Linked DNA regions of Homo sapiens. The protein of the gene in region 2 interacts with the protein of the main gene of each other region in a pairwise test. Each region holds a gene or a part of one and is shown on either strand. Other genes may lie near its edges.

What was found.
Region 1: the proteins of UBXN11 (region 2) and RHOBTB3 interact in binary tests that used the Homo sapiens proteins (3 or more experiments, as listed by UniProt).

The regions. Positions count from the first base shown.
Region 1 is NC_000005.10:95,729,167-95,745,479, reverse strand, and holds the start of RHOBTB3 (rho-related BTB domain-containing protein 3), read right to left. Parts: upstream 14,145-16,313; 5' UTR 13,798-14,144; coding exon 13,796-13,797; intron 13,788-13,795; exon of another isoform or gene 13,622-13,787; coding exon 13,396-13,621; exon of another isoform or gene 13,378-13,395; intron 8,592-13,377; coding exon 8,405-8,591; intron 1-8,404. UniProt on the Homo sapiens protein: Rab9-regulated ATPase required for endosome to Golgi transport. Involved in transport vesicle docking at the Golgi complex, possibly by participating in release M6PRBP1/TIP47 from vesicles to permit their efficient docking and fusion at the Golgi.
Region 2 is NC_000001.11:26,289,498-26,305,810, reverse strand, and holds part of UBXN11 (UBX domain-containing protein 11), read left to right. Parts: intron 1-2,643; exon of another isoform or gene 2,644-2,768; intron 2,769-2,892; 5' UTR 2,893-2,927; coding exon 2,928-2,998; intron 2,999-4,088; coding exon 4,089-4,117; intron 4,118-4,786; coding exon 4,787-4,885; intron 4,886-7,748; coding exon 7,749-7,849; intron 7,850-8,329; coding exon 8,330-8,384; intron 8,385-8,815; coding exon 8,816-8,892; intron 8,893-11,479; coding exon 11,480-11,606; intron 11,607-16,313. UniProt on the Homo sapiens protein: May be involved in the reorganization of actin cytoskeleton mediated by RND1, RND2 and RND3. Promotes RHOA activation mediated by GNA12 and GNA13.

The DNA.
Region 1 (16,313 bases), on a different chromosome or scaffold from region 2:
GAAATAACTGAAAGGATGCCTGTCTTTGGGAGCTTAAACCTATGAATACATTCTAAGCACATTCTGAAAAAAAATTCTCTTTTCAAGATAGATTCAATATTTAGTATAAGCCGAAAATTTATTCAGAGCCAAGTATGATGAAGACATCCATAGGGTCAAAGTTGTCAAAAATGTGTAACAAAGGAAAGAAATGAGACTGGATTATACTTGGCTGAATTCTTTTTAACTTTAAAAAGAATTTCAAGAAGCTGAGCATGATGGCGTGTGCTTAATTCCAGCTACTTGGAAGGCTGAGGTGGGAGGATCCCTTGAACCTAGGAGTTGGGGGCCAGCTTGGTTGACATAGCGAGATCCCATCTCCATTTTTTTAATTTTTTTAAATTTTTATGTATTTATTTATTTATTTTGAGACAGGGTCTCACTCTGTCGCCCAGGCTGGAGTGCAGTGGCATGATCTCTGCTCACTTCAACCTCTGCCTCCCCCAGGCTCAAGTGATCCTCCCACCTCAGCCTACCTAGTGGCTGGAACTACTGGTGTGCATCACCACACCTGGCAAATTTTTGTATTTTTCCTAGAGATGGGGTTTCACCATGTTGCCCAGGCTGGTCCTGAACTCCTGATCGCAAGTGATCCTCCCACCTCAGTCACCCAAAGTGCTGGGATTACAGGCGTGAGTCACCGTGGCCAGCCCCATCTCTATTTAAAACAAAAAACAAACAAACAAACAAAAAGTTAAAAAGAGTTCCAAGGGAATTACCAGGAGAGCACCCAACACAGTTTCATGTATTCCAAGGGATGGATGGGGGGAAGCCAATATAGGTCCTCGAGTTGAATAGCCAGATTTAGCTTTGTAATTACTTTGTAATTACATCTTGTATGGCAAATTAATTTCATCTTGTTAGTGAAATTGATTTTTTCACTTACTCAGATCATCCATAAAACCATTCACTCATTGAATAAACGTTTAGTGAGTACCTACCACACATCAAGTGCCAGGGATATAAAAATGCAATGATATAAAAACTCATAGTCAACTGAGAGAAGATAGACATGACTGCAAACAGTTATAATATAACATAATAAGCACTGAAATAAAGATGTCCAAAGCCACCACACAACAGAGGAGAGAAAGTTAACTGTCTGGGGGGATTACGGAAGGCTTCACAGAAAGTGTAATGATTTAAAAGATAAGTGTGAATTTGCTATGCTGATATGATAGGGGCTGTGTAGAGGGGCACTACAGTTAAGAATACAGCATGTACAGGGGACTGGATGTGAGAAGAAAGGAAAACATTCATTTCCAGTTTCAAGATGGAAAGCTAAGCCCACACTGTGATCTCCCCTCCCTGCCAAATCACAGAGATGATGAAATAAAGGGGGAAGGGGGGAGGAGAGAAAGAAGAGAGGGAAGGAGAGAAGAGGGAAGGAGAGAGGGAGGGAGGAAGGAAGGAAAGAAGGAAGGGGGAGAGGGGCCAGGTGCATTGTCTCATGCCTGTAATCCCAGCACTTTGGGAGGCTGAGGCAGGTGGATAACTTGAGGTCAGGAGTTCGAGACCAGCCTGGCCACTATGATGAAACTCCACCTCTACTAAAAATACAAAAATTACCCAGGCATGGTGGTTCATACCTATAATTGCAGCTACTTAGGAGGCTGAGGCAGGAGAATCACTTGAACCTGAGGTGGAGGTTGCCATGAGCTGAGACTGTGCCACTGCACTCCAGCCTGGGCAACAGAGTGACATGCTGTCTCAAAAAAAAAAAAAAATGGGGGGGAGGAGAAGAAGGGAGGGAAGGAGGGAAGAGGGGAGGAAAGAAGGAAGGGGGAAGGAGAAAGAGAGGGAGGGAGAAAGACAGGGAGGGAGGCAGGAAGGACTGAATACACAGCAACACTCAAAAACTAGAGGGGAAACCTCATCAGCCCAGAAACTAGGAGTGCTTGAGAGAATGAAGGCAGGCAGTACAGGACCGAAGAGGCCTCCTGAAGCTCTGAGTACAGGCTCACACTGCAGCCACACCTAGAGTGCTCCCTGCTCAACAATGCAGGGAGCAACAAGGAGGAGGCGGCCCAAAGGCAAATGACTGGGGATGAGTGGGAGAACCCCAGTGGAAGCAGCCAAGCCTGTTGATCCTGGGTGTTTTCCTACTTACACCCCCATCCCCAGACAGCAGCTGGGCAGAGAAAGAGGAAGGCATCAATCCAACAAGGAAAGTCAACTGCAAAAGTAGGCAAATTAAGAATTCCCCAATGTTTAAGAAGTATCCATACCATAAAATAAAATCTCATCAAGTAGAACGACTTATAATGCCATCTTAAAACCAAACTTAATAGAAAAATCAAAACTGAATTATTAAGCATCATTAATTATCCTGAGAGTTTTTTTTATTTATTTTTTATTTTTTTATTTTTTGAGATGGAGTCTCGCTCTGTCCCCCAGGCTGGAGTGTAGTGGCGCAATCTTGGCTCACAGCAACCTCCGCCTCCCAGGTTCACGCCATTCTCCTGCCTCAGCCTCCCGAGTAGCTGGGACTACAGGCGCCCGCCAGCATGCCTGGCTAATTTTTGTACTTTTAGTAGAGACAGGGTTTCACTGTGTTAGCCAGGATGGTCTTGATCTCCTGACCTCATGATCCGCCCGCCTCGGCCTCCCGAAGTGCTGGGATTACAGGCATGAGCCACTGCGCCTGGTCTGAGAGTTTTTTTAAATAAAAGTTTGCATCCTTAAGATTGGAACAAGAACTTATGAAAACAGCCATTAGAGATCTGGTATGAAAAGCTTTTGAAATAAAAAATTTAATAAGGCAGAATAGCAGAACAGACCCAGCAGAACTAATGTGTGAACCAGAAGAAAAGGCCAAGGAACTCTCCCATAATGCAACACAAAGAAATAAAGCAATAAGAAATATAAAAGAAAGATAAAATAATCAGAGAAGAGATCCAGAAGTTCCAACATCAGTCTAACAAAAGTCCCAAAAGAAGAGAATAGAGAAAATGGATGGATGGTGATATCTGAAGTCACACAGTTAAGACTTTCCTAGACCTAAAGAAAGACATTAAGTTTTTCAAGTAGTTCAGTGTGACTGATACATAAGGCAGGGGATTGTGCCCTGCAAGATTATAGAAACAGTCAGAGGCTACCTCATGAAGGATCTTGTATTTCAGGTAAAGATTTTACAAGAAAAAGTTATTGAAATGAGATACGAATACCAGATTGAAATAAGGGCATCAGTGCCCATAATTTAAATAAAAAGTATAATCCCTAGCTCTAGCCAATTAAAGGGCGCAGAAGTAAAGACACCTAAAGTCATGAGCATCCTAGAGCCCAGACCTTGGTTTCTAAATATCATTGCCCCCTAGAAGGAACCAGAGTTCCTGAAGAAATGGCTGATTCTAGGACTGGGATAGGCAAAGTCTGAGCCTGGAATATCTTGTGCCAGAAAATAAGGAAGGGGCTAAAAACTGATTAGAGGTAGCTTGAAATGACTCCCTGCAAGCAAATATGGAGCAATGTGAGCATCCAAAAGAATAATCAGAACAGATCACAAAATACTGAATTTAAAATAGAAATCCATGAATCATAATAATTCTAAGAGAAAAATTTGGGAGCAGAGAAAAAGGAAAGCTCCATTTACAGAAGAATATCAACCAATAAGTATAGGAAGAACGATAGAAACATCACTATTTTGCAAGCACATTTATCATAAATGAAGGAATTATGCAAACTAAAGGGCCTGGGCTCATTAAAAATGTTCATATTATGACAGACACGGTCCCTCCCCCCAAACCCACTGGGCGTACTGCTCCAGATTAAAAGAGATTAGAAGGCAGATGTGGTCATGCATGCCTATAATCCTAGCTACTTGGGAGCCTGTGGCAGGAGGATTGCTTAGGCCCGAGTTCAGACCAGCCTAGGCAACACAGCAAGATCCTGTTTCTAAAAAAAAAAAAAAAAAAAAACAGAAAGAAAGAAAAAAAAAAGAGAATTGAGAGATATAACAACTAAATGTAATGTGTAATATTTAATTGCATCCTGGATTGGTTAAAAGACAACAACAATGATAAACCCCAGCTATAAAGCACATTATAAGGAAACAACCGGGGAAATGAAAATATGGATTCTATCTCTTTTTTTTTTCTTTTCTTTTTTTTTTTTTAGTCAGAGTCTCGCTCTGTCGTCCAGGCTGGAGTGCAGTGGTGCGATCTCGGTTCACTGTAACCTCCGCCTCCTGGGTTCGTGCCATTCTCCTGCTTCAGCTTCCTAAATAGCTGGGACTACAGGCACCTGCCACCACGCCTGGCTAATTTTTCATATTTTTAGTAGAGACCGGGTTTCACCGTGTTAGCCAGGATGGTCTCGATCTCCTGACCTCATGATCCACCCGCGTCGGCCTCCCAAAGTGCTGGGATTACAGGCGTGAGCCACTGCGCCTGGCCAGATTATATCTTAAATAATAGTAAAAATGTAATAGTATGTTAGATTTCTTGATTGATGATTGTATTAGGCTTAATAAGATAACGGCCTTGTTCTTAGATGATACATGCTAAAGTAATTAGGAATAAAGAAATCTCATAATGTTTACAATTCACTCTCAAATAGTTCAGCCAAAAAAAAGTGTGTGTGTGTGTGTTTATAAAATCTAGGGTTCAATGTCTTATTCTTGTCAACTTTCTTAGGTTTGAAATTTTGCAAAATAAGAGGCAAAGAAGAAAGTTCTCAAAGAATTCAAAGCATTGAGCGCCATGATCTGACTTGTATTCTAGGATAACTATTCTGAGAGAATTTATTTCAGAAAGAGACAAACCAGGAATAGCACACCAGAGGCCAATTTACCATAAAGCTGATGAAGCTCAAGCTTCAAGACTCTTTTCTTGTGGATCCTTTCCAAGCCCCAGGAAGAACCTGAGCAATATATCTTCACATGGTCATATTCTTTTGTAAAATTTGCAAACTAAGATATTTAGTCAAGACTATTGTCTCTTTCCACTCCAAATCACTTCATCTTGTATCAGGCAGCTCTGGAGTAACTGTGGGCATTTGGGGGATGTTGCCAAAGGGAATTTAACCTTAGGCTTAATGAACTATTTGTGGTTTATAGTCACTTCCATGTATAGTTGAGTGTGTGATAACTGATAATCAGATTCCACTGATTATCATTCTCATCTCTATAGAAAATATCATAAAGTGGTTGTATTAGTCTGTTCTCATGCTGCTAACAAAGACATACCTGAGACTGGGTAATTTATAAAGAAAAGGAAGTTTAATGGACTCATAGTTCCACATGGCTGGGGAGGCCTCATGATCATGATGGAAGGTGGAGGAGGAGCAAAGTTACATCTTACATGGCAGCAGGCAAGAGAGCATGACCAGAACTGCCCTTTTATAAAACCATCAGATCTCATGAGACTTACTCACTATCATGAGAATAGCACAGGAAAAACCCGCTCCCATGATTCAACCACCTCCCACCAGGTCCCTCCCATGACACATGGGGATTATGACAATTCAACGTGAGATTTGTGTGGGGACACAGCCATAACCTATCAGTGGTTATCATATGAAGAGATGACCAAAGACTATGGTCACCCAAAAAACATAAGAAAAGTTGAAGAAGTATCAGGCTGTTAAAAAGATCTGTTGCCAGGTGTGGTGGCTCACGCCTGTAACCCCAGCACTTTGGGAGACTGAGGGGGGCAGATGGCTTGAGTCTAGGAGATGGAGACCAGCCTGAGCAACACGGCAGAATTTCGTTTCTATAAAAAAACTGGCTGGGTGTGGTGGCACGTGCCTGTAGTCCTTGCTACTCAGGAGGCTGAGGTGGGGGGCATCGTTCAAGCCCAGGAGGTCCAGGTTGCAGTGAGCTATGATCATGCCACTGCACTCCAGCCTGGGCAACAGAGCAAGACCCTGTCTCAAAAATATATACATACATTTAAAAATGTCTGTAGTATTTGACAACTTTTTAGTTGTAATTTGTTGTGCTTTCACTTATCATTCTAAATATTTACTTTTGTACATATATGTATCTGTTATTTTGTGGGTTTTTTTCCTTATGAAGGACCTCCCAAATTGTGTAAGTTTGAGGCCCTACAAAATCTGAAACCATCCCTTAAAGAGACCAAAAAGAAGGCCACCATGACAAATAACTAAATGACTAGAATGCGAAATCCAATGGAGATGAAGAGAAAGTAATGAGTTTGAGATTTGTTTAAAATGTAAAAGCAAAAGGGCTTCTTAATCAACTGGATATGCGGAATCGGGCTGGGTCTAGGATGATTCTTGTTTGGGTGAATGGATAGGACTGGCATCATTCACCAAGACAGGAAATTTGGCCAGAGGAAGATGATGTCTATGGTGATATGTGCCAGGAGCAAGACTAAAGCCAGAGAGACAGACTGAACAGTTATCGGTGTTTATATAGGAGAAGCCAGGACAACAGATTAGCAGGTTAATGGTTTGGCTGAAGAGTAAGAACAGGTGAGGTCAAAGGACGGAACCCTGGGAAACAATTCTGCTGTGTGTGTGTGGGAGGAGGGGAGAAAGGCAAAGGAGACAGATAGTTAAAAGAACCAGTAGCTTTATTAAATGGAGGGAGAGGTATGTTTCAATAATTTCAACAAGAGATAAGTATTATTATCTCTTATCTCTTCGATAAGAGATAATTGTTATTAAAGTGTATTAAATTTGGCTAACGAGGACATAAGTGGTGTCTTAGTCCGTTTTGTGCTTCTATAATGGAACACCACAGACTGGGTAATTTATAAAGAAAAGAAATTTATTTCTCACAGTTCTGGAGGCTGAGATGTCCAATATCAAGGTGCTAGCATCTGGTGAGACCTTCCTGCTGCATCGTCCCATGGTGGAAGGCAGAAGTACAAGAGAGCTCACAAGACAGAGGGCAGAAGGGGGCCAAACTCATCCTTTTATCAGGAGCCCACTCCCATGATAATTAACCCACTTTAAAGATAATAGCATCAATCCATTTACGAGGGCAGAGTCCTCTTGCCCTAATTACCTCCTAAAGTCTCACTGCCCAACACTGTGCCATCACATGAACTTTGGGGAACAAATTCAGACCACAGCAACTGGAGACCCTGAGGGAGAACAAACTTGGTGCACTTGTGAAAGTCAAAGTCAGACTGTAGCGGACTGAAGAATGAATAGGAAATGGACTCAGGAAGTGCAGATAACTCTTTTATGAATCATGACCAGAAATAAAAAGAAAGATAGGGAAGTAGAGGGGATATGGGGTCACGGGTAGGTCATGCCTGCCTTACTTGTATCTACTAATGCTATATATATACCTGCCCTCTGACCCAACAATCCCGCTCCTGGGTAACGACCTAAGCATCCTCAAAAGAAGAATGGATAAATAAATTATGGCATATTCATACAATGGACTAATATATAGTAATAAAAAGAACAAACTACAGATAAACACAACATGGACAAATCTCAAAAGTATTATGCTAACTGAAATTAGCCTAACCTAAGGCACTACTACATACCATATAATTTCATTTGTATGAAGTTCAGAAATAGGTAAAACTAATCTGTGTTGTTAGAAGTCAGAATAGCAGTTACCTCTGAGGAGGAGCGTTATTAACTGGGAAGAGCATGAGGGAGCCTTCTCAAGTGCTGCAAATGTTCTATACCTTGATGTATGTGGGTTGCGTGGCTGTATACATAGGTAAAAATGCATTTAGCTGCACTCTAAGATCAGTAAACCTTATGTCCTTTACTTCGCAATACCTCAATTTAAAAGTTTTTAGAATAATGTGTAAAAATAAAATTTTAAAAATAGCTTTACTAGGAAATACCACTAAGAAGATCTGTAAAATACCACCAAATCAAACTGAATCCTGAGTTGGCCCTAAGATATCTGACAATAATATGCACAGCAGCAATGGCTGAAGCAGCCTGAACCCAATGAATCTATCAGCCATGGAATAAGCAATCCTTTCTTTTAGGCAGCACTGTCAGTGTTTCCAGCTCACTCATTGTTATCTACCTAAAAATCCTGCTCCCAAGCCCACATCTTCATGTGAACAATCTATCCTTCCCAATCAGGTAGACCTTCAGATCATCAAAAAGAGTTTTCTAGGGCTCAGCATCAGCCTAATACCTCTCATATGTCAAAATAATACAATTGCTGACTTCCATCACTACTGTAGAAGAGCCATTTAGAAGACAGATTTGCACCCAGTGGAATCACAGCAGAAGTTCATGATCCTCTCCTTTGTTGTTTTTTTATCGTATCAAATGATGAAGCGATAGCAGCTGGCATTGAACCAAAGTCATTTTGGTTTTCAAAAACAAACCCTATTATCCATTAATAAACTTAGCACTATTTAAAGTATATATAATATTTGCATGCTCACTACAAAAAAGAATATTAAATACTTACCATTTTGTCTGGTACCAACAGCAGCAATAATTACTGGAACTGAATTTAATGCTCTTTTTATCACTGGAATATAATTATCCTTTACTTCATGGAATGAAAACTTGTCATTAACGTTGTATTTGATCACAATGATGTCAGCGCCCCCAATTAGATTTCGAGAAGTGTACCAATCACTGTCAAATATGTCCTAAACCAAAATGCAAATAGCAATCTTTAGTCTACTTATCGTCCAATCAATCCTGAAATAATTTATGACATTAATTTTTGGAATTCATAAAAAATTATTTTAAAATAAGTAACTACTTGAAATTAAAAGTGTTGCAGTCTGCCAACTCTCTTTTTAAAAATGTTTACTTACTCATGTAGCCTGGACAATTATGTAATGGTTAAACAGGAGAACCTGAGAATTCTTGAGAGTCAGATAAAATAAGCAACCTCTTTCACTATTTGCACTTAAAAATAAGCCCTTTGTTTTAAAATTACACTATATTTTTATCACCTCATAAATTCAAAAGTGTAACATTATGGCATTAGATGGAAGAGCAACAGTATGAGTAACGAAGCTTCAAAGGTTTTCCTCTGACCCAGTTAGACACTGCAGGATTTTCAGTGTTCTGAACTGCAATACATTTTAAATTCTGTGAAGTTCCATATACTTTATTCATATTTTCAAAATTCATGTATACTTTTCAACTTTATCCATCCTTTGGACAGTACTGTATATAAAGAGTATGAATGTGGGGTGAGGGAGAAATTCCTTTACTAAAAAAAGAGATACTGTGTATTACAAGGTGTTAACATGGTAAGGAATATATTTTCAATTCACGTATTTTGCCTACATAAATTAAAAATTCAGGATAAACTCTTCTAGTTCTGAAATATTTACTTTTGTGCTACAGCTAATAACATTTATATTTATTTAGAACTGGGGCCAGTAAGTAATTTATTACAAACACTATTCCTTAAAAATATAATGTTTTGATTTTTTTTCTGTCGACCAGCATGGAGTCCAGTGGTGCGATCTCGGCTCACTGCAGCCTCCACCTCCCAAGTTCAAGCAATTCCTGTGCCTCAGCCTCCCGAGTAGCTGGGACTACAGGTGTGTACCACCATTCCGGCTAATTTTTTTGTACTTTAGCAGAGATGGGGTTTCAACCACAATGCTCAGGTTGGTCTCCAGCTTCTGAGCTCAGGCAGTCTGCCCACTTCGGTCTCCCAAAGTGTGAGGATTACAGGCATGAGCCACCGTGCCTGGCCTGGGTTGATATTTTACATATAATTTTTCAGTTTCTGTATGAATAGTGATGTAAGGAAAATATCTTTAGGTATCTTAACTCCACTACCAAATAATGTACAAGTAGTTTTCTTCTCACATTCTAGTTAACTATTAATCATTTGTCTTTTTATGTGGCCTTTGGTACACATTTCTAGGATGTAATAAAGCTAGATTAAGAAAATAGCTAGGTCTGACTAACAGGTCCAAAAGCTGTTGAGCTAAGAAAGTTCAAACTTTGAAATATGAGTCTAAAACAGGGTTAACAGTGTTTGAATCAGCCAACCAAGGTCTATGTGACAGAGCTTTTATCCTACGATGGCACATTCTGGAGGAGTATCACACAGCAATGCCCTTCTGAAGAGAGAGCTTCTTCTCATCAGTGCCTCCCCCAGTTCCCCATACCCTCCCAGCCACTCATTTCCCACAAGTACACTCAGAGTAACAAGAACTGCAGAATTTTTTGTCATGAATACCCTATCAAAACTGGGATGTGTACAGTATTTTTGAAGGGAGGTAAAAGAACCAAAAAAAAAAAAAAAAGGCAAAATATGGACTATAAACAACAAAGGCAAAGGGTTGAACTTGGTAGAGGGTGCAAGGGGGCAGAAGGGAAGTGGGACACAGTGCAGAAAAATGGGAAAGCTTCCCAGCAGAACTCTCAAACTGCCAAATCCCAAACCACACAGCTCATTCAGTTCCAACTGCATCTGTTACAGCGTTCAAGTTCAAAGTATCCAAGTATAACAGAGTGCGTAAGTATAACAAGGAAGACAAATGAGATAAAAAACTAAACAAAAGTGGGGCCAATATTAAGCAGCCATTTAACTCTGAGAGAATAAATCAAAAGTAGCTGCTTTTTGAATTCCAAATAGTTCAAAATTCCAGAGTTACTGGAGAGGTATCCGGGGAAGGGGAGGACCTTTAAGGGAAAATGTTATGAAAAAATGGGTCTGGGCATCCTTAACTCTGTGGGATTGAGGATGTGAAGACTATAAATACTTAATTTGTAATCCAAATCAGAGCTTCAAACCCTGCAAAGAAAACTGTAAATCTATTAAACTACCTCACTGCTTTTTGTGGAATATTTTTAATAAACAGTAAAAGATATAGAAACGTGAAATGAAATAATAATGTACCACACCAAAAAAACGGATGGGAAAGAGAGAGAAAGACACACTAAATAATGTGCTACATCTAATGAATCTGCAGCACATTTGTTTTAAAAGTGCCAAGTATATAAGGCAAGGATCCAGGGTAAGGCTAAGGATCTATAGAAGAGAACTAGGGAAGGGAAACACAGCTACCTCATTTCAACTTCAAGGCAACAACAACACATCTCTTCTCAAACTATGCCAAAGAGAAAATACTCCAAAGATTTCTAGAATTATGAAGAAAATCAAATTCTCCCACCCCTTGTAAATCAGTTCCAGGGTTTCCTCTCGGGGTTATGCAACACAAGGCTTGGAGCCACATTTGGAGAATTGAACTCATCTTTTAAAAAAAAAAATCTGAATTTCTACAGTGAAACTATTTTATTTTACTTGATTGTGGGGCTGCATGTATGAAGTATGAACATCGCTGCCCCAGTGTACTGGTACTGTAGTTGTATAAATCTTGAATGACCTGTGAAAATCTTACTTTTGCTTAGTATTAATATAAGTGATACATAACTAAAGTTGTAACACTTTATTTTTATATTAGCTACCACTTATAGAGCATCTACTAAATGCCAGCCTCTATACTTAGAACTTGACACGTGCTAGTTTCTCATTCACTTCTCAGCACAGCTTTAGGAGGCATATTATTTTATAGATAGGGAAAATAAGGCTGAGAGAAGGTAAGTGATTTAACAAGGACACACAGACCTGAAATGGCAATGTGGGAATCTGAAATCAGATCCTTTTGATATCAAAGGCTATGCTCTATCTGCTCTGCTATATTTAATATTCTGGTTCCGTACATACGTCAAATAACAGTTGATTAATGCAATCAGCTTTAGAATCTCTGATGGGCTTTACTTACCACCAAGTGAAGAAAAGCACCTTATAAAGAGCAACTCTAGAAATGGAATCTCATATCTGAAGATCATTATAACCTAGAAAATTGTACCTGGTTACAAACTTGGTGCCTTAAATAGGGCCAGAGTCTAACCAAACAAAAAGTTATTAGCAAGATAAACCATAACAACCAGCATATGGCAAAAATCCGTACTATAGAGGTTTATTTTCTCCATTTGGAAGATTTCATTTTACTAGACAAAGTGTATGGGATCACAAGCATTACTGTTTGCAAAATTAACAGTATAAACAGGAAAGTGTTAACAGCTCAAATTAAATACGGGAAAGCAATCCTAACATCCTAATGTAGCTAGTTTTATTTTCCCTACATTTACTCGATTCGCTAAACATTTATTCAACTGCATGTTGAACCGTCATGTTTTTAGGCTGTAAGATCTTTCACAACGAAAGATCCCAAGTAAAAGAAGTGTTTCATTTGCCTGCATAGACTCTGACCAGTAAGTTCTCCATCAATACTTCTTATGAACAGCATCATCACTATCATAACTAGGGGTTTAATAGTATCTCTTAATTGAAAAGGCCTGTTTTTTATTTTACCAAATTAACATAACTTTCTTCTTTAACTGAAAACTTACACGAGCGAGTGATCTTTTCGTTCTGTTATGTGGAACTTTGCATAAGAAATTTTTCCAAGTATATTCTACACATTTTTTAGAATGGCGTGATACTTTCCTATAGTCCTAATTCAGTTTTTTTAATATTGCTGTTTAAATGTGAAATCTTACACAACGATAATTTGTATCTTTTCAGGCACTAAACTTTCTTCTGTTATTAAATGTAACATTTAGCTGAAACATACGTAACTCCAATATCAGTAAAGAATCAAAGATTTTCAAATAAGACTAAAGGAAAACATTCAAACATAATGTTATTGTATGCTGAAAATATTTATATGTGTCAGAAAGTAAGTTCCTTTCTCCCTTAATCAAACACTCAAGAATCGGACTATAATTTATCCACTTCACTACTATTTTGTTCAATTATTACAAATTTTAATTTTTTAAAAGTTTTCCAAACAACATTAGTAATGTTATTTCTGATTTATGAGTCACTAAGACAAATGGCTAACACATAAAGAGTATTTGCATTATTAAAATTAAGTTTTCAGAGATCAATTAATAGTGCTATAAATGAGTCATTTAAAATTAACTCCCAGTCCCTGTCTTTTCCTCCGCTTTCCAGAGGAACTATTTCTGAACTGTCCCAGTGAAAAGTATTTTTGCCTGTGTTGAGCTTTGAGAGGGATGTATTTTTAGAACACCAATATTACACTATCACCCATAGGGTAGACATAAAAAAACACTGCTTTTTGCTGATGAAACTTAGTGACCCCGTCCCTTGGAGTTGGCACATTCAACTGTCTGCTGCCTACCAAGGGTCAACCCACAGTCGTGAAGTGTACCAGTAAGTGCTCCACATTCCCACTGGGGCCTTCTATCTTCCTAAGAGTGTTCTCTGACAGGGCTGTTCCCTGCCCAGTGAAACAAAGGACCAAAGATTTTCTCAAAAATGTTTAAAAATTTGACCCATGTAACGCGGACACTCCACACTCACGGAAGTGGGCAGAAGGGGGAGGGGGAAAAAAAAGGAAAGAAAAGCTTCTTCAGCCTCAGCGCGGAGCAGCTGCTCTTCCTTACCCAGACGGGACAGTCGTGGACCACCAGCTTGACATTCCCAAACGCACTGGCCTGATACTCGGTGAACACCGGACGCGCGACCGTGCTGGCCGCGTTCAGCAACAAGCTGCTCTCGTCCCCGGAGACCAGAGGGCTTCTCCCCAGGTAAGTGCGGATAAGCCCCGACGGCCGGTTGTCCTGGTGGAATGTGTCCCCCTCGTTCCCCAGCGCCACGATGTGGATGGACCTGCACGGACAGAGGGGGCGAGGGGAGAAGGGAAGCACGGTCAGCGCGCGGGTCTCTCCTCGGAACAGGAAGTGCGGGGGACAGCGCGCGGCGAGGATGGGCACCAGCCCCTGTCCCTGGGGCGCACGGCACGCGCTGGAGAGAGACAATGGCAGGACGGCGGCGCGTACGTACATGATCTCAAATCCAAGGGCAGGGCGGCGACTCGGAGAAAAGCAGCGGCTCACGGCTTCGCGGGGCCCCCGGGCGGCGAGTTCACCCGCAATCCGCTCATCCCCGGCCGCGTCCCCCTCGCGCGCCTCCACCGCGGCGGGGCCGACGCAGAGCGGGGCCGGGGCCGCGCCAGCCAGCGAGCGAGCCGGGGACCAGGGCGGGCTAGCGGGCGGGGGATAAGCTGCCGCTACTCAGGGAGTGCCCGGGAACATCGCCGGGCGCGGGACCGCCGCACAGCCCCAAGTGGACGCAGCTGACCGCAGTCCCCTCTCCGCCGCGCCTCCTCGGCTGGCAGCTGTCGCCTCCTGCTGCCGCTGCCGCTGCTCCTCCTCCTCTAAGCAGAGAAGGGGGGTCGGGGAGATCGGGGCCTCCGCCCCCTCAGCGGACCGGGCGCAGCACGTGCCAGCCCCGGGGGTCGGGCGGATGCGGGGGACGCGCTCCCCGCGGAGGCCCCGGGAGCTCCGGTGGCGGCGGCTGGACACAAAGGAGCCGCCCGCGCGGGGCGCCGCGGAATATAAATTAATAAATACAACGCCCCAGCCCGAGAGCTCCCAGCCGCCAATCCGCCTGCAGCAAGTTTGTTCAACTCGCAAGGCCGTAACCAGAGCCAGGAAAGGGGGGTGGGGCGATGGGGCCCCCGCTCACTCCGGACTGGAAAAAGGAGGTTAGGGAAGCTAGGGATTCCAGCCCGAGTGCCGCCCCAGCAACCCGATTTCCCCCCCTCTTGGCCTTGACCGAAAGTGCTTTACCACGTCTGCCGCTTTCTCATTTGTCAACATGCGCTACAGCTGTTTTCTAAAATCATACTTGTGAGAAAAAATAAAGGCAACATTCATGCTGCTGCAGAAAGAGTTCTTTGTTCACACACCAATTAATTTGCTAATGTCGCCTTGGGGGGATTATTTACTATTTCAAGCTATATTTAGCGTATTTTACCGAAAACTTCAGGATTTTAAATGCTGGGATTTTTAGTGTGATCGTTTTTAAAGGAAGTTATGTATGGGGGTTTAACGTGTTGGTAAGTTAAATGCCAGTTTACTTGGAGATTTTTCTGTACACGTTATGGCCACATATTTAATAATAGCTCCGCAGACCAACTGAAAACATAATCACGTAAATGCAAAGATACTTTAGATTCTTTCATAATAATGCACTGAAGTAAAGGCTATGAATATCCCTAACGTGCTTCAAACTACCTCGATACAAACGAACACTGGGATCCACTTACTAACACCAAAATGGGCCAGGGATTACTCTGGGGTTAGACTCCTCCATACAGTATTAAAATTCTAACCAGTACCTTACTCTGTGTTGAAAAGAGTTCTTGCTTATCCTTTTATCTGTTTATTTTTCCCTTCTGTAAAATTGGACTGTTTCTTTTCTCAGCTGAGCTATTTTGAGGGTATGAAAGAGGGGGTATTGAGTAGGGCAGTAAAAAAACTAGGGCAACAGCTTTTTATTATGGGCCCTTATTGCTCGGTTGAAAGTAGTTTAATAGTTTCTCGTGCTCAGAGAGGATATAATGGGAGATATTCTTTATGTGGTCACTGTTTTTTTTTTTAATCTAATTTCCCTTTGCATTTTCTACGATTTCTCTTTGAGTCTCTAGAACCTAAACCATCCTTAAAAATTCCAGCATGCAAGATCACTTTTTCTCTTGGGTTAATAGAAAATATATTTTCTCATCAGTCTTTTCCGGAAACCCATAAGTCAAAAACAAAGACACTAGAATGGATGAATGGATAAAGAAAATGTGGTATACACATGTAATGGATGATTAGCGTTTAAAAAAGAAGAAAATTCCTTCATAAACTACAACATGGATGAACCTTGAGGACCTTGTGCTAAGTGGAATCAGCCAGTTGCAAATCACAAAAAGTGATTCCATTTATATGAAGTATCTAAAGTAGTCAAACTCTTAGAAACAGAAAGTAGAATCATGGTTACCAGGGGCTGGGGAGAGGGGAAAAGGGGGCGTTGTTCAACAGGTATAGTGTTTCAGGTTTGCAGGAAGAAAAAGTTACAGAGATCTGTTGCATGAGGTGCATATATAGTTCGTACTATACTGAACTATAGAACTGAACGCTAGAACATTGTTAACTAAACACTAGAGCGTGTACTGAACACTAGAACATGATTAACATGGTAACTATTGTTATATTTTATGACAATATAAAAATATTAATACAAAAATGAAACAAAAATAGACACCAAAGTTGCTGACAACTTGGAAGTGTCAGAAAGGGAGAAAGTATTCATTTTTTCCTTAGTTACTCAATAGGTGAGCCAAGCCTGTGCTGGGTAGGCATAGGAGATCCCAAGGTACATAAGACTTGGTCATTGACCTTAAGAAGCTAAAGCAATTTGTTACCAGAAAGGGGTCCCAATCCTGACTCCAAAAGAGAGTTCTTGGACCTCCAGCGAAGAATTCAGGGCAAGTCCATAAAGTGAAAGCCAGTTTATTAAGAAAGTAAAGGAA
Region 2 (16,313 bases):
GATGGCGTAAGAGGGAAGGAAGGAGAGAAAAAATGTGGTTGGGTGATGGGGTCCCATTAAGAAGGGGGAAGTGGGAGGAAGTGAGTTTGACGAAAATGTTGGATTTGGTTTAGGAGTTTTGTTTTTTTTTCCCATGACAGCTTTATTGAGATATAATTCACGTATTACATACTTCACTCCTTTAAAGTGTAAATTTCAATTTTTAGTATATTTTAGTATATATTCCATTTATATGAAATGTGCAGTGTGGGCAAGTCTATAGAACAGAAAGTAGATTTGTGGTTGCCTAAGGCTGCCTTGGAAAAGGGGTGGGGGCTGGAGGGTAAATTGGGGGTGACTGCCAAAGGGTACAGGGTTTGTTTAGGCTGACGAAAATGTTCTAAAATTGTGATGGTAGTACAGCTCTGTGAATATACTAAAAAGAAAATTACACTGTAAGAAGGTGAAATATGTGAATTATATCTCAAAGCTGTTTTATGAAAAAGGTTGCATACTGTATAATTCCATTTGTGTAACTTTTTTGAAGTAAGAAAATTATAGAGATGGGCCAGGTGGGGTGGCTCACGCCGGTAATCCTAGCACTTTGGGAGGCTGAGGCAGGAGAATTGCTTGAACCTGGGAGGCGGAGGTTGCAGTGAGCCGAGATTGCGCCATTGCTCTCCAGCCTGGGCGACAGAGCGAGACTCCATCTCAAAAAACAAAACAAAAAAAGTATTGAGGGGAGCTGGGTGAAGGATACAAAGGATCTTTCTGTACTATTTTCCTAATTTCCTGTGAATCTATAATAATTTTCAAATAAAAAGCTAAAATATAAGTGAAAAACAAACTGAAGGGGAAAAAAAAGAGTTAGCTGGCCAAGGGAAGGGTGCAGGTAGGAGTGGGGAGACCGTTCTGGGAGTGGGGGGATTGAGGTTGAGGCAGGGGGGATACACATGCATTTGAGGCATTGCTAGAAGTTGAGGTGGCTCAAGTGTGGGAGGCGGCAAGATGGGAGATGAGGTCAGGAGACATAAGCAGGGACCAGGTCACCTATATCAAGGAATTATGAATTTTTTTTTGAGATGGAGTCTTGCTCTGTCACCCAGGCTGGAGTGCAATGGCGCAATCTCTGCTCACTGCAACCTCCGCCTCCTGGGTTCAAGCAATTCTTCTGCCTCGGCCTCCCAAGTAGCTGGGATTACAGGTGCCTGCCACCAAGCCCGGCTAATTTTTGTATTTTTAGTAGAGATGGGGTTTTGCCACGTTGGTCAGGCTGGTCTTGAACTCCTGACCTTAGGTGATCCACCCTCCTCGGCCTCCCAAAGTGTTGGGATTATAGGTGTAAGCCACCGTGCCTGGCCAGAATTTTGAATTTTTTTCTGTGGGTGAGAAGTGCTGGGATTATAGGCATGAGCCACCGCTCCCGGCCTGCTTTATGTTTTAAGATCTCTCTGGTAGCACATGGGAACTAATGAAGGGAGCCTTGGCCATACAACCCGTGAGGCTGCCCAGACAGGGCAGGGGCTGGGGCAGGGTGGGGACAGATTTGGGAGGCTGGATGCTGGGGGTGAAGAAACTCTGGGCCTGATCCTTGAGGAGGGCTCCTTCCAAGGAAGGGGCAGGGCATGATTCTCAAACTCTGCAGTGAAGGCATTGGAGGCTGCCTCCAGGCAGCATAGATTCCCTTGCTGACTGACTTCAGAAGTAGGGTTGAGGCCAGAACCAGACATCTTCAAAGTGGAACTTCTTGGATTTGTCCTAAAAAATTTGGTCCAGGCTGGGTGCAGTGGCTCATGCCTGTAATCCCAGCACTTTGGGAGGTCGAGGGGGGCGGATCACCTGAGGTCATTTACTGAATAGAGTAGTAGCCTTCGATTATGTCCTTCAGGTGCACTCCTTTTTCCAGAAGGAAGAGGAAAGGAAAGGAAACTAACATTTACGAGTGCTTCCTATGTGGCAGCAACAGCAAAAACAACAGCAGCCCCAACTCACATTTTTCAGTGCTTCCTTTGAGCTTGGCGCTGGGCTAGACCTTCTCTGTTATCTCTGAATCTGCTCAGAACCCTGCCTGTGCCAGTACTATTACGACCCCCATTTTATACTAAAAGAAACTGAGGGTGGGTTACTCCAGTGAGTGGCAAAACCTGGCATCTTAACCTTGGTGTCACATGGACTGTGTCTTTTTTTTTTTTTTTTTTTTTGAGATGGAGTTTCGCTCTTGTTGCCCAGGTTGGTTGGAGTGCAATGGTGCAGTCTCATCTCATTGCATCCTCCCCACCTCCTGGGTTCAAGCGATTCTCGTGCCTCAGACTCCCAAGTAGCTGGGACTACAGGAGCACGCCACCACGCCCAGCTAATTTTTGTGTTTTTAGTAGAGACAGGGTTTCACCATGTCGGACAGCTGATCTCGAACCACTGACCTCAGGCGATCCACCCACCTCGGCCTGTGTCTTGATTGAATCCTGCCTGTGGGTTGGCCTCTCTGGCTCTGAGATGTTGGGAGTGGCACCTGGTTTCTGGTGGGAGGGAAGGAGATACTTGGGCTTTGTGTCACCCAGCTGGCTGATGGACGGACAGCCTCCTGGGTAGTAGCATTTTCAGGCTCTAAGTTTGGGAAAGTTCCAGGCTTCTGACTCATTTCTGCATCCCATCCCACCCTCACAGTACTTTCCCAAGCACCACCAGGCCAAAGGTCTCTCAGTTCAGAGCAGAAAGCCGTATACCCAGAGGAGCAGGCAGATAACAGAAACTTCCAGAAACCTCTGTGGAGACAGTGGAAGAGGCAAAAGGTACTGCTGCCTAGACAGCGCTTCCCATTAGGAAGAGTAGCCAGGGAAGTGGAAACTTCAGGCTACCCCCTGGGCTTGGAGCCCTGAGTCTGTCCCCAGGGGCTGACTTCCTGCATTCCTCTAGGGAGTTCCTGACAGCTGGATTCTAGAAGTAGAACTATGAGCTCACCTTTGGCCTCCCTTAGCAAGACCCGAAAAGTGCCCCTGCCCTCGGAGCCTATGAATCCTGGGTAAGGAGCCAGCCTCAGGGGTCTTTCTGTCCCCGCCTCTGTATCCTCTTCTATCCTTCCATGGCCAGAGGACAGTGACTCCTAGTGTCTTGGGGAATACAAAGAAGGGCCACATAGCCTTCCCTGACCACTGTCTTTTTCTTTATACCTTCTTCTGGGGCACCCAACTTTGGATCTGAGCATAAACTGGGTTGTGCTTTTAGTAAGGTATGGGCCCTGTAGGAGTGGCTTGGCATCCCATCTGTTCATTCACTGTTCATTGATTAATTCTGCAAACACAGATGGTCTACGGACCTATCCTGGGCCAGGCCCTGTGTGGGGTTCAGTAAAGGGAATCTTTTACATCTGTCTAGCACTTTCATGTTTTCAAAACATTTTTTACCTCTCTTCCTTCTTGCTCTCTGGAATACCACTTTGAGTCTTTTTTTTTTTTTTTTTTTTTTTTTTTTTAAAGACCAAGTCTCGCTCTGTCGCCCAGGCTGTGGATTGCAGTGGCACGATCTTGGCTCACTGCAACCTGTGCCTCCTGAGTTCAAGCGATTCTCCTGCCTCAGCCTCAGTAGCTGGGACTACAGGCGCATGCTATAACACCTGGCTAATTTTTTGTATTTTTAGTAGAGACGGGTTTCACTGTGTTACCCAGGATGGTCTCGATCTCCTGACCTCGTGATCTGCCCACCTCGGCCTCCCAAAGTGCTGGAATTACCAGCCACCGCGCCTGGCCCCACTTTGAGTCATTCTAAGGCCTAGAAGATTCAGAGAGGTTAAGCAACAGGCCTCACAGCCTTTGCAGAGCAGAGCTGGGGCTGAGCTCATGGGCTTTGCAAGCCTTGTAGTCTTCCCACCTAAGACTCTGCTCTTCACCCCTTCCCCATCCTTCTCCACTGGGTGAAGTCAGACACCTCGAAGCCTGTCCCTTGTCTCACCCCAGGCTGGGGCTGGGATTTGGGGCTGGAAGTCCTCAGGAGTTAGAGGCCCTGCTTCCATCTCTTTGAGCTTTGGCTGAAGTCCGGTGCCCAGAGCCTTATCCCTGGTATCATTCCAGGGGCCCTAACTTATATTTCTTCCTTCTTCCTGCCTGGGTTCCCAGGAGGCGAGGAATCCGCATCTATGGAGATGGTAAGTGTGCCCCGCCCTCGTGCCCTCTTCGCCTCTCATGTGCTTGCACCTCCTACAGTTGGACCGATGGAGAGAAATCACACGAGAAAGGCCCTTGTCAGCTGGAGCAGCGGCCTCCACCGTGTTCTGTGCAGCTCCCATGCTGTCCTCCCTGAGGGCTGGGCTTCCCTCCTGGAAGCTCTCAGATTAGGAGGCCCCATACCCTTGGCACAGATGTTGCCACTCACATTTGAACCCCTTGACCCACTGTGGGACTGGCCAGTGTGTGCCTAGAAACCAAGTGAGGGCCAAGAGATTACCCAGCCCAGGGGTTTGGATCCCAGCCCCCCTTCCCCCTCCAGCCTCCTCCAGTGTGACAGCCTTTCTCCCGGGAGGCCTGTCCACACATTGCCACCCTGACTCTTGTAGCTCAGGCCTTTGGATCCCTGCCCCCCAACTCTCCACCATGGCATTGGCATTGGCCATGCCAGTCCCCCTGGGAGCAGGACTGGAAGAACTCCAAAACAGCCCCATTCTGGTTGGATCCTTGCTCCCCAGCCTTGTGAATTCTCTCTCCTCAAACTCCCTGGGGCACAGTGCATAGGCCGCGTCACACTGGCGAGGGCCCAGGGCCTGAGTTTCCTCTGGGTCTCCGCCCCAGAGCGGTGACCTAGGCATCCCTGTCTGCAGAAGATGAGGTGGACATGTTGAGTGATGGGTGTGGCTCAGAAGAAAAGATCTCAGTCCCTTCCTGCTATGGCGGCATAGGTGCCCCTGTGAGTCGGCAAGGTGAGAGCAGAGGCCTGAAGGGTCTGGGTCCTGGCTGCAGGAGGGGGCCCCAGAGACGGGGCAAGGCCTAGGGAGGCATGGCCCTTCCTCTCGCCTGTTTGGTCTGAGGCAGCTGCTTCCACTCCTGGCTGATTGTGGCAGGGACCTGGCTTGGCATAAAGCCACACAAGCCCCACCCTTAGCTCAGGAGGCCGAGGCCCAGCCCCAGCCCCAGCCCCAGGCCAGGCTGTGGCTATAGTTACCAGGTGTGATATCAGTGGGCTCAGGATTCAGGGTCAGAGAGGGATGAAGTCTGAGGGTAGAGCTCAGCTTCCTGCTTCTGCAGGGCTCTGGCAAGGCCCAAAGTCGCCTAGACAGTCTGCTTAGCTTGGCAGAGGGCTGTGGCAATGCTGAGCTCATGGAGGCACCTAAAGTGGGATGGGGCTAATCAGGGTGGCTTCCCAGAGTGGGGATTTAGCAGGTCTGAGAAAAGGGGAGACATGGGCAGGCAGGGATGAGCCCTGCAGAGTGCTGGGCGGGATCTGGGGATGCTGGGGATAAGGTTAGAACTTTCCACTAGCTCACTAGCTGTGGTATCTTGAGCAAGCAACTTCGCATCTCTCTGTCTCTGAGGCCTCCTCTGTGAAGTGGGCATGGGAACAGCGAGGGCAGCGTGTTGGGAGGATTCAATGAGATGCTCCTCGGTGGAGGGCCCCTGGCCAGCGCCTGTCACGCGAGGTGCTCAGTGTGGTGGCTGCCCATCAGGAGGCCAGCCATAGGGAAGGGCCTGATGATTCTCCCTCAGGCCCCTTCCATTTTACCGGAGGAGGGAATTGAGGTGGAAAAAGAGACAGGAAGAGCCTGGCCTAAGGTTCTGCGGCCATTTCACCACAAAGCCAAGATCTCCTATACCCTGGCTGGGGTCAACTTTCTTTTTTATTTTATTTTTTTTGAGACAGGGTTTTGCTCTGTCATCCAGGCTGGAGTGCAGTGGTGCGATCATGGCTCACTGCAACCTCAGCCTCCCAGGCACAATCAGTCCTCCTGCCTCAGCCTCCCAAAGTGCTGGGATTACAGGCATGAGCCACCATACCCAGCCAGGTCACTTTCAGTAGTAACCATGGCAACCAGGTTCTCTCTTTGAAAGAGCTCCAGGTGTCCTCTCCCTGCTTTCCCCTGTCATCCCCTCCTCTCCCACTCCCAGCCAATATCTGTCCCTACCAAGGTAACAGATGAGGACTTGCCTATCTTATTTTACTTCTCTGCCAGCAGTGTCCTATACTGTCCACTGCTCCTTCCTTCTCAGGACCTCCACCAAGCTCTTAGGCACCAAGCTGCTGCCCTCCCATTACCCTCTGCTTCTAGGCTCTGTCTCTTAGCTGTCATCACCACCTCCTTTTTTCTCTCAGGTTTTTTTTTTGTTTTTTTTTTTTTTGGAGACTGCCTTGCTCTGTTGCCCAGCCTGGAGTGCAGCGGTGCAAATCACTACTTACTGCAGCCTCGACCTGTCAGGCTCAAGCAGTCCTCCCACTTCAGCCTCTCAAGTAGCTGGGACTACAGACACACACCACCATGCCTGGCTAATTTTTGTATTTTTAGTAGAGACAGGGTTTCTCTATGTTGCTCAGGCTGGTCTCGAACTCCTGGTCTCAAGTGATCTGCCCGCCTCGGCCTCCCAAAGTGCTGGGATTACAGGTGCGAGCCACTGCACCCAGGCCCTCAGCTTTTCAATGTGATGTTCCTCTGGCCTGGATTCTCCTCTGTGTCCACTGTGCCCCAGTGAGCTCACCTGCACTCCATGTGTAGACAGTTCCCAAATGTTTGTCAATTAAGATGCATTTAACTATAAGTCAAAGAAAACCCTTCCTCAGCCAACAAGAACATTAAGGAAGTTTTGTTATCCCACATGCAAAGAAATCCTAAAGAGGCAGCTCCAGGGGTGTTAATTCAGTGACTCCAAGACATCATCAGGGGCTCAGGTTTCTCCATCTTTCCACTGAACCTGCCTTGACATGTCAGCCTCATGTGGTTGTAGGATGATGGCCGCGGTTCCTGCTTCATACATAGAAAGGACACTGTCTAGGGGAAGAAAAGGAAAAGGCCTGCTTCTTCCTGTAGGTTTCTCTTCTTTTCCATTTTCATACTTTTTTTTTTTTTTTTTTTTTTCTGAGACAGAGTCCCTCACTCTGTTACCCAGGCTGGAGTGCAGTGGTGCGATCTTGGCTCACTGCAACCTCCGCCTCCTGGGTTCAAGCGATTCTCGAGTAGCTGGGATTACAGGCACCTGCCACCACGCCCGGCTGATTTTTGTATTTTTAGTAGAGGCAGGGTTTCACCATGTTGGCCAGGCTGGTTTTGGACTCCTGGCCTCAAGTGATCCACCTGCCTTGGCCTCCCAAAGTGCTGGGATTACAGGCATGAGCCACCGCATGCCCGGCCCTGGCTACTGTTTTCTACAGCACCCCGCATTCTGGCTTTGTCTGGCAGTTTGCCCGTGGGGTATTTGCCTCACTCCTCTATCTGCTGTTTTGCGTACCAACTGGACACTAGATTTGGAGGTTTGATTAGATCGAGGGTGAAATTCTTGGCAATGCTTCAGGGTGATGTCACCCATATGTTACACCACTTCCTTGTATATGTTGGACAAATTACTTGATCCCTTTGTGTCTCAGTTTCCTAAAACAGTTCATTTACCTCCTGGGTGTGTTTCAAGGATTACAGGGGGTTGATCTACATGAAGTGTTTAGAACAGTTCCTATGATGCCAGTGGGAGCTGCTCTCAGTACCTTCATTTCCATTCCTGGGACCCCTATCCTCCTCCCTCCCCCCCACAACTCAGCCTCGGCTCTAGGTCTGGGCTCTAAAGACTTTGTGTGCTTGGCAGTCCCTGCATCCCATGACTCGGAGCTGATGGCCTTCATGACGAGGAAGTTGTGGGACCTGGAGCAGCAGGTGAAGGCCCAGACTGATGAGATACTGTCCAAGGTGGGGCTCCAGGTGGGAGAGGGCCAGGGGCCGGTCTGAGAGGTGGAGGGACTGGGCTGGGGAGGCCAGGAGTTGGACTAGGGTGGGTGATTCTAGAACCGTCTACCACACTGACCTGCCCAGTTCGAGGACCAGGTGTGGCCTGGGCCTGATCTAGGTCCTGTGACCTGAGCCGAGAGGCTGGGGGGTCTTCCCCTCAGCTGAGCAGGACCCAGTAGACCCTGGACTGGGTGGCACAGTGGACTGCTGAGCAGAGCGCGGCACCCTCAGATGTGGGGGTCCTCAGGTGTGGGCCGCACCTCTCCCTACCTCAGAGGAACTGCGAGGGTTATCTGAGGTCCGGGAGAAGTGGCTGTGCCAAAGGGTGGCAGGGGCTTGCTGCTCCCCAGCATCCAACATAGGCAAAGCTCTGGAGCTTCCTGTCTGGGCAGGGCTCTGGGAACCACAGGCCCTGTGCTCACCCTGTGTCTTATGCTACAGGATCAGAAGATAGCGGCCCTAGAGGACCTGGTGCAGACCCTCCGGCCACACCCAGGTAGGGGGCTCTTGGAGGGCTGACCTGCGCCCCCAGTCAGGCACCTCCCCTGGGCCCAGGGCTCCTGGAAGCTTCACAATGGCTTCTGGCATCAAGAGCATCAAGCTGACTACTTGGTGGGGTCTGGACAGCTGAGCCCACAGAGGGGCTGCAGCATATCCAGGACAGTGCTGGAGTCACTCCATGCCCTCCTACATGGGACCGAGTCCCATCTGAAGTGTGGAGGAGAGGAGGCTCTGAGGGGAGTGGCAGCCTCCTAGGGCCCATCAAGGCACCGCCACGGGGTCAGAGGAGAGGCCAGAGAGGTGGGGGGCCAAGAGGCAGTTCTTGGGGGATCCCCAGAACAGCTTCTCCAGATGACCCTCAGGGCAGAGGTGACCTGGCAGTGTCTTGCTGGGGCAGCTGAAGCCTGTCCCTGTCTTTCCCTGAAGCCGAGGCAACCCTGCAGCGGCAGGAGGAACTGGAGACGATGTGTGTGCAGCTGCAGCGGCAGGTCAGGGAGATGGAGGTGAGAGAGCTGGGCCCCGGGGGATGCGGGCAGCCAGCAGTCCCCAGCTCTTCACGGCATGTTCCTCAGGAGCTGGGTCCGAGCCCACCTCTCTGGGCCTCTCCTCGTCACATCCCACCCAGGGACCCTGCCCTGCATTTCCCTACCCAGGACTGGCCCAGACTTTAAAGAGCCAGGGAGGTGTCTGGGGCTGGGGCACACCCCTGCTTTTGGGCCCTCTGAACATGCCTCTCCCCTGCTTAGCAGACCTCATGGCTCCCACTGAACTGAATTCTACAGTCCTCGCTGTGGCCCCTGCGGGCTGGCCCCTGCATGCCTCTTCATCTTAGCTTGAACCACTCTCCCCTCCAGCCATGAGGCCCTTCCTCTGGGTCTTTGACCTCATGGAGCTGCTTCCCACCTCAGGGCCTTGGGCCGTGCTGTTGCTGTTCCCTCTGCTGAAATGTTTCCCCACCTCCCCCAGGTCAGTTCCACTGTCCTCAGTCATATCCCCCGGGCCTCCTAGGCAGGTTTTCCATCCCGAGCTTTCTCAGTGCCTCATCTCTCTTCCCTTGTGGGACTCTGAACTCCACGACGGAGGGAGCAGTTTCCTCCTGTATGTCACTGTGCACCCAGGACCTAGCACTGAATTGGTTAAGCAATTTGCTGCCTCTGGCTGTGACTTCTGCTCACTGGGGACTCAGTGACCCCAGTCACCTTTCTTTCCCCCGCTCACAGACCCATTCAAACAGCAAGGGAACTAGAGGGACACCAGGCACAGAGAAGGGTCCCAGGCACGCATGGGCCCTGCCAGAAGTTCTTCCTGGGATTCAGCCTCTCTCCCTCTCCACGCAGAATTGGTTTCCAAAGTCCCAATCTAATTTAAAACCTTGGCAGCAAACCTCCAATTGCAGCTGAGAGCCCTTCCCACTCCAAGCTGTTCATACCTGGGGTTGTCCCCGAGCAGTGGCCACAGGCGGTGAGGGCTGCACCAGAGCCTCGGGGCAGGGGCATGACTGCCCTTGCATGCGTCTCCGCCACACAGTTATCACTTCATTCATTTAACAGCCTCATCTGGAGGATCTGCTTGGGGCAGGCCTGGGGCAGAGCATGACCAAGACAGACATAGTCCCCCGCCTGCATGAGGCTGCCAGTCTGTGGGGAGGGGAACAAACGAGTACACAGGTACACAAGTACAGAGAGTGCTGTGACTTGATGAAATGGGTGACACCACAGAGGCAAGTTGGGGGACCACCTGCGGGGGTGACATTGGGCATGATGTCTGGTGAGTGAGGAGGGGAATGGGGTGAGAGGATCCAGGCCTTAGACAGGGAAGGTGCCACTTCCCGCCACATAACTTGGCTTGCGGTCGGTGGCTGTGTGGAGGAAGGAGAAGAACGGGAAAAGAGAAGAGGTCGTGGGGGCCTTATCACATTGGAGCCGCCCGTGGTTCTGGCTGGATCCTGTCCCGAAAAAATGGGAAGCCATTGGAAGGCTTCTGTTTGAGAGGTGGCATGACAAAAAGACCACCCTGCTTTGTGGGGTTGGGTGGTGTGGGTGAGGAGAGGACGGGGGAAGCAGGCGCCGCCCCTGGATTGTCCAGGAGAAAGATGACGGTGGCTTGAACTAGGGTGGTGGCAGCAGATGGAGCCCAGTGGATGGGTTCCAGGCTGCATTGGAGGGGGCACCACAGGCCTTGTGGGTCATCCTGGAGGAATGGGCGACAGAGGATTCTCAGGTGGAGGGGGTGCCATTTCTGGAGACAGGAAAACCTGGCACGGGGGAGGTTTGACAGGGGGACAAGAGCCACAGCCATTAGACATCCAAGTGTGGACGGTTGGAAATGTGAGTCTGGAGCTCGGGTGAAATCTGCATAAATACAAACTTGGGTTCTGTCGTATATATTTGGGAGAGCGTGTGGATGGAGCTGGGCCCCCATGAGTTGGTGTTGGATAGGAAGGGGAAACGGTGAAGGAAATTGGAAAGGAACAGCCCAGGAGATGGGAGGAAAACTAGCAGATGGTGAAAGATAGACAGAAATGTGCCCATGCGCTTGGCAGCGGGTAGGTTGGTGGTTGCAGCACCTTGAGCAGTTTCAGAGAGGTATGGCGATGGAGCCAGGTTAGAGTGGCTTGAGAAAAGAAGTCGGGGTGTGGACATGTAGACAGTCCAGAAGTTTCCTGTGGCAGAGGGGACATGCGGCCAAGCCCTAGGGAGGCTGGCACATGGTTCACATCCCTCAGCCCTGCCTCCTTCTCACACTTGGGCCAGGCCACGTGATTTCTGCAGCCAAGGAGGCTGACCTTACCGAGCCCTCGCATGGGCTGGGCGCTGACCTGAGTGATCTTACTGAGCCCTCCTCACAAGCTTATGTGGCAGGAACTGTCACTCCATTTTATTAGAGGAGTCGTCTGAGGCTCTAGGGACTGAGGTGGCTTTCCAAGGTCACAGCCAGGAAATGGCAAGATCCCCCTACTCATCCCTTTGTCTGGTCAGCTCTGGGGGCCCCATTGCCTGCAGACTGAGGCTGGGCTTTGGGCTGACACTGCCTTTCCCTGGGAAGGGGCTGAGCTGACGGTGCCCCGCATCTCCCCCTTCTTTCCCACAGCGGTTCCTCAGTGACTATGGCCTGCAGTGGGTGGGCGAGCCCATGGACCAGGAGGACTCAGAGAGCAAGACAGTCTCAGAGCATGGCGAGAGGGACTGGATGACAGCCAAGAAGTTCTGGAAGCCAGGTAGAGCAGGGCGTCTGCCCCAGGCCCTCTTCAAAAGGAATTCTCCAACAGTTTGCTGTTGGCCGGCAGCTCCCCAGAGGCCTATCTCATTCGTGCCCGGGTCCCTGACCCAAGACGCCCTGAGAGCCCACAACTTGCCCCTGAGACAATGTGGGAGCAGCCTTGGCCTCCATCACTGACCACTTAACCTGCTGGCCCACTTCTCCACGGTCCTACCTCTGCTCTCTCTTGCTCATCTGTCAGAGACCCAGAGATACAAGAGGTAGCAAGGCCTTATTTGCCTCAGGTCACATAGTCTACAAAACGCCACCAATCTGGAAGATGTTGCCGTTTTAAAAAAAGGCAATCCTTCTGTTCTAGAAGCTGCTGCCAAATTCCCAGGTTTGGCCTCCCTCTCCAGGTTTGCTTATGGCCCTTGGAATCCACCTGGTTCTGTGGGCCCCTACCATGTCTTTTTTTTTTTTTTTTTTTTTTTTTTTTGAGACGGAGTCTTGCTCTGTCACCCAGGCTGGAGTGCAGTGGCACGATTTGGCTCATTGCAACCTCTGCCTCCCAGGTTCAAGCAATTCTCCTGCCTCAGCCTCCTGAGTAGCTAGGATTACAAGTGTGTGCCAACACACCCAGCTAATTTTTGTATTTTTAGTAAAGACGGGGTTTTACCATGTTGGCCAGGCTGGTCTTGAACTCCTGACCTCGTGATCTGCCCACCTTGGCCTCCCAAAGTGCTGGGATTACAGGTGTGAGCCACCACGCCTGGCCTACCATGTCTTATTTTTAACTTCTAATATCTAGAGGGATTCCTCCCACAGTCCCCTCCTATAGACCCACAGATTTGGGTCCATAAAACTGGCCATTTCTGAAAACCAGGCCCATTCTCTTCAAAGAATGGAGATTGTCACCCAAAAGATGCTTCTCCAGGCTCTAGAGTCAGGCACACCTGGGCCCTCAACTCGACTCTACCTCCTATCCCAAGTGTGACTTGGGCAGATGACCTCTATTCACTTCATCAACAAAACAGGAGTGTTCTTCCCTGGGAGTTACAAGGAGCAAATGAGTTAAACGCAGAGCGCCTAGCTCTGGCCTTGCAGCCATTGTTGTTTCCAAAGTCTGAGGGCAGGGGTCCCACGGGAATAGGAGCACAGCTTCCAAGGGGCCCATTTGGAAGATGACGACACCTTCTTGGTTTCCTGCTAGGTAAAAACCCAGATTCCAAACATGAGAATCCTGCCTCCTGTTTAGGCCTGGGCTCTGGCTGGATCCCCCCAGATCTCAGGGTCTAACGCCCTCACTGCTTGTTCTCAAAACATCACTTCCCATTTTTGTGCCATTTGCAGCTTTCTTTTTTTTTTTGAGATGGAGTCTTGCTCTTGTTGCCCAGGCTAGAGTGCAATGGCACAATCTCGGCTCACTGCAACCTCTGCCTCCTGGGTTCAAGCGATTCTCCTGCCTCAGCCTCCTGAGTAGCTGGGATTACAGGCGCCCACCACCATGCCCGGCTGATTTTTGTATTTTTAGTAGAGACAGCGTTTCGCCATGTTGGTCAGGCTGGTCTCAAACTCCTAACCTCGTGATCTTCCCGCCTCGGCATCCCAAAGTGCTGGGATTACAGGTGTGAGCCACCGCGCCCAGCCATTTGCAGCTTTCAAAGCATTTTCTTTTTTCTTTTCTTTATTTTTCTTTTTATTTTTTGAGGCAGGGTCTCACTTTTGCCTGGGCTGAGTGCAGTGGCACAGTCATGGCTCACTGCAGCCTCAACCTCCTGGGCTGAAGTGATCCTCCCACCTCAGCTGTCTGAGTAGCTGGGACTGCAGGCACGTGCCACCACACCCAGCTGATTTTCTTTATTTTTTGTAGAGACGAGGTCTCGCTACGTTGCCAAGGCTGGTCTTGAACTCCTGGATGCCAGTGATCCTGCTGCCTCAGCCTCCCAAAGTGCTGGGATTACAGTTGTGAGCCACTGTGCCCTGCCAGCATCTTCATAGCCTTGACAGGGGCCAGGAGTTACTCCATTTCACAGATGGGTAAAGGGAGGCACTTAAGGAGTCTGTGGACTCATTATTGAGGGAAGAGGGGCAAGACTTAAGGCTGACAGCCCACTGTAAGGCAGTTGGTCACTGAGGCAGAAGATGAGATGATGCCCAGCTTGAGGGTGGGGATGGTGAGAAGGGATGGGCAGAGAGATTTAAGTAGAATCCGTGGCCTTGGTGTCTTTACATGAGGGAGAGGACCAGAGGAGTCAGGGATAACCCGAGGGAGCACAGCTGCGGGAAAGATGCTGAGTACACTTGGGACACAGCAAAGCTGGGGGCTGTGCAGTCCCTATGATGCTAGGAAGGGGAGCGTGTCCCTGCTGCCCAGGGCACTGTAGGCCCAGGCATGCCAACTCCAAAGCTCTAACTGAACCCAGGGTGGGTGTCGTGGGGAGAGTTCTCAAGGGACCCCTGGCATGAGTGAGAGGTGAGGCCCTATTGGGTGGCTGCAGGTGCTCTGAGAATGTCTATCCTGGATCTAGGCCAGAGGCCCACAAGTGCCGCACCCTGGGCCCTGCTGTGGCGGGCTGGGCTCAGGCTTCAGGTAGGCCTGCCATCTTGTTGCAGGGCAGCCTTCCTCCTGGCCAGGGGGGACCTCCTTGCTCCTTGCCAGGTGGCTGGTTTCTGGACCTGGCTCTGTGGATTCCTACTCTGCCCTGTTTGGTTGTTTGTGCTCTGAGTGCCTCAAGTCAAAGTAACTTGTGAAAAACCCTGCCCTCCATCTTGGAGGCCCTGGCCATATCTGTGGTCCCTCCGTGCGTTCTCTTCCTTCTTTTGTTCTTTGATTTTTTCAGCATGGGCGGGGGGCCTTGATTCGGCTCTTTCTGCCAGATGAATGACGTTTTTCGTCGCTAGCAGCTTCTGTTCCTGGGACATCTCTCCGGCGTCCCCGTTCCTCTCTCCCCAGGTGCCACCCTGCTCCGCCCAGGGGCCTCAGGCTCACAGCCTGGCCCCCGCTGGCCTGCCTGACACTCGGCTGATTGCTCTGCTCTCCCTCTGTTGGAGAGGCTCCCACAGGCGCTGGGGTGGAGGCCTGTGGAGGGTGAGCCAGGGCCGTCTGTGCCGAGCCAGTGGGGTGATCAAACTTCCTGGAGCCTGGGACTCCTAGGGAGGAGGGCCGGTGGGGCCATGAAGGGGCTTGGCCTCAGGCTGGATCGCTCACTCTCCCCCTCTCTCTGCCAGCGTCACAGAGCATGCTGTGCCAGGTGCTTCAGGGTCTGTGGAGACATGAAAGGGACAGTCCTGCTCTGGTCACACGCCACTGGGGCCAGGTGTTGGGCCTCGGGGCTGAGAGCTCTGGTCAGCTCTGAAGTTCTCCCTTCCCCCCCACCCTCTGCATCTCTGAGCTCCTCACTCCTCACTACTTCCCTGTTCCCCTGAGAATCCTCACCCTCTCATCCCCCTCTGAAATCCCCACTTCCCCTACCCAAGTCAGTCCCTGCCTCCCTCCATGGCTCCACCTCTCCCTGCCAGCACCCCACACGCCTCCCTCCTTCCTCTCAAGCCCCACACTCCTGAGTCTGGGTTGGAGGCCCCCTGACTCCGCAGCCTGCGTGACTTGCCCCTGGGCTTGCCCTTCAATCCCAGAGCCACCTGGCTTGACCCCTCCCCACCTGCACTTCTGCCTCCAGCCTTTGCTCCTGCTCTGTCCCCACAGAGCGCCTTGCCCGCTTCCCTCCCCTCTGAAGCTCAGGGCAAATCCAACCTCCGCCAGCAAACTCTGACTGCCCTGTGTGGGCTGTGCTGCTCTGTGGGGAGGGCTCTGCTTGAGGGAAGGGGCTAAAAGCTCTGGCTGAGGCAGGGTTCAGGTCGGGTCAGACCCCAGATCAGCAGATCGCTGACCCCCTCTGAGTTCATTTCCTCCTCAGTCGTGCTGACGGGCTCCTAGGGCCACTGAATGGATGTGGTAATAAACTGTGACAGCCACTGTCACCTAGCTGTTGTCATGCATGTCCCAGTGCTTGGCACATGGGCAAGGGTGTGTGTAGCTGCATGTGATTGGCTGTGATGCCCGTGTGCCCAGGCTTGGATGATCAGAGCACATTGGAACAGTCATCTGCACATGATGAGGTGGGGACAGGGTGGTGCGTAGCTCAATGGCAGGGGCCAGAGAGAGCTGCAGGTGGGACCCGGCAGGCCTGAGTTCAGATCCTGCCAGTCCACAGGCTGGTTGAGTGTTCTGGCGGGGACCAGACCTGCAGGGCCTCCTTTCCTGCACTGGCTCCTCTGAAGAGCAGAGTGACTGCAGTAAAGTCCCCAGAGCGGGGCCTGGCTTGCAGGTGTGTGGTAATAGTGGTTCCACTTCCTGTTGCAGCCGTCTTTGCCTGAGGGTCAAGGGCAGGCACATGGAGGGCGGCACCGCGTGAGCTGCCGGGGTGCCCTGGGCACTTGTGCAGTGAGGGGCTGCCACCTCTCCACTGAGCATGGTAGGGTCTGGCCCTCTTCTGGGCTCCACAGCCCCCACAGTGATACTTACACATGCCATTGTCGCCATTTGCCGCCCCGTCTTCTTCACTTGAGTCTGAGCCTGAGGATGGCAGGACCCTGGGCGTGGGCATCGCCATGATGGGCAGGGCCTAGCAGAGCACGGGTGCTCAGACATTTCTGGAAAGCAGGATCCAACCCTGCTTTTAGTGGCCCAGCCACTCTGGGCCAGGCCCAGGGCTCAATGCTCCTG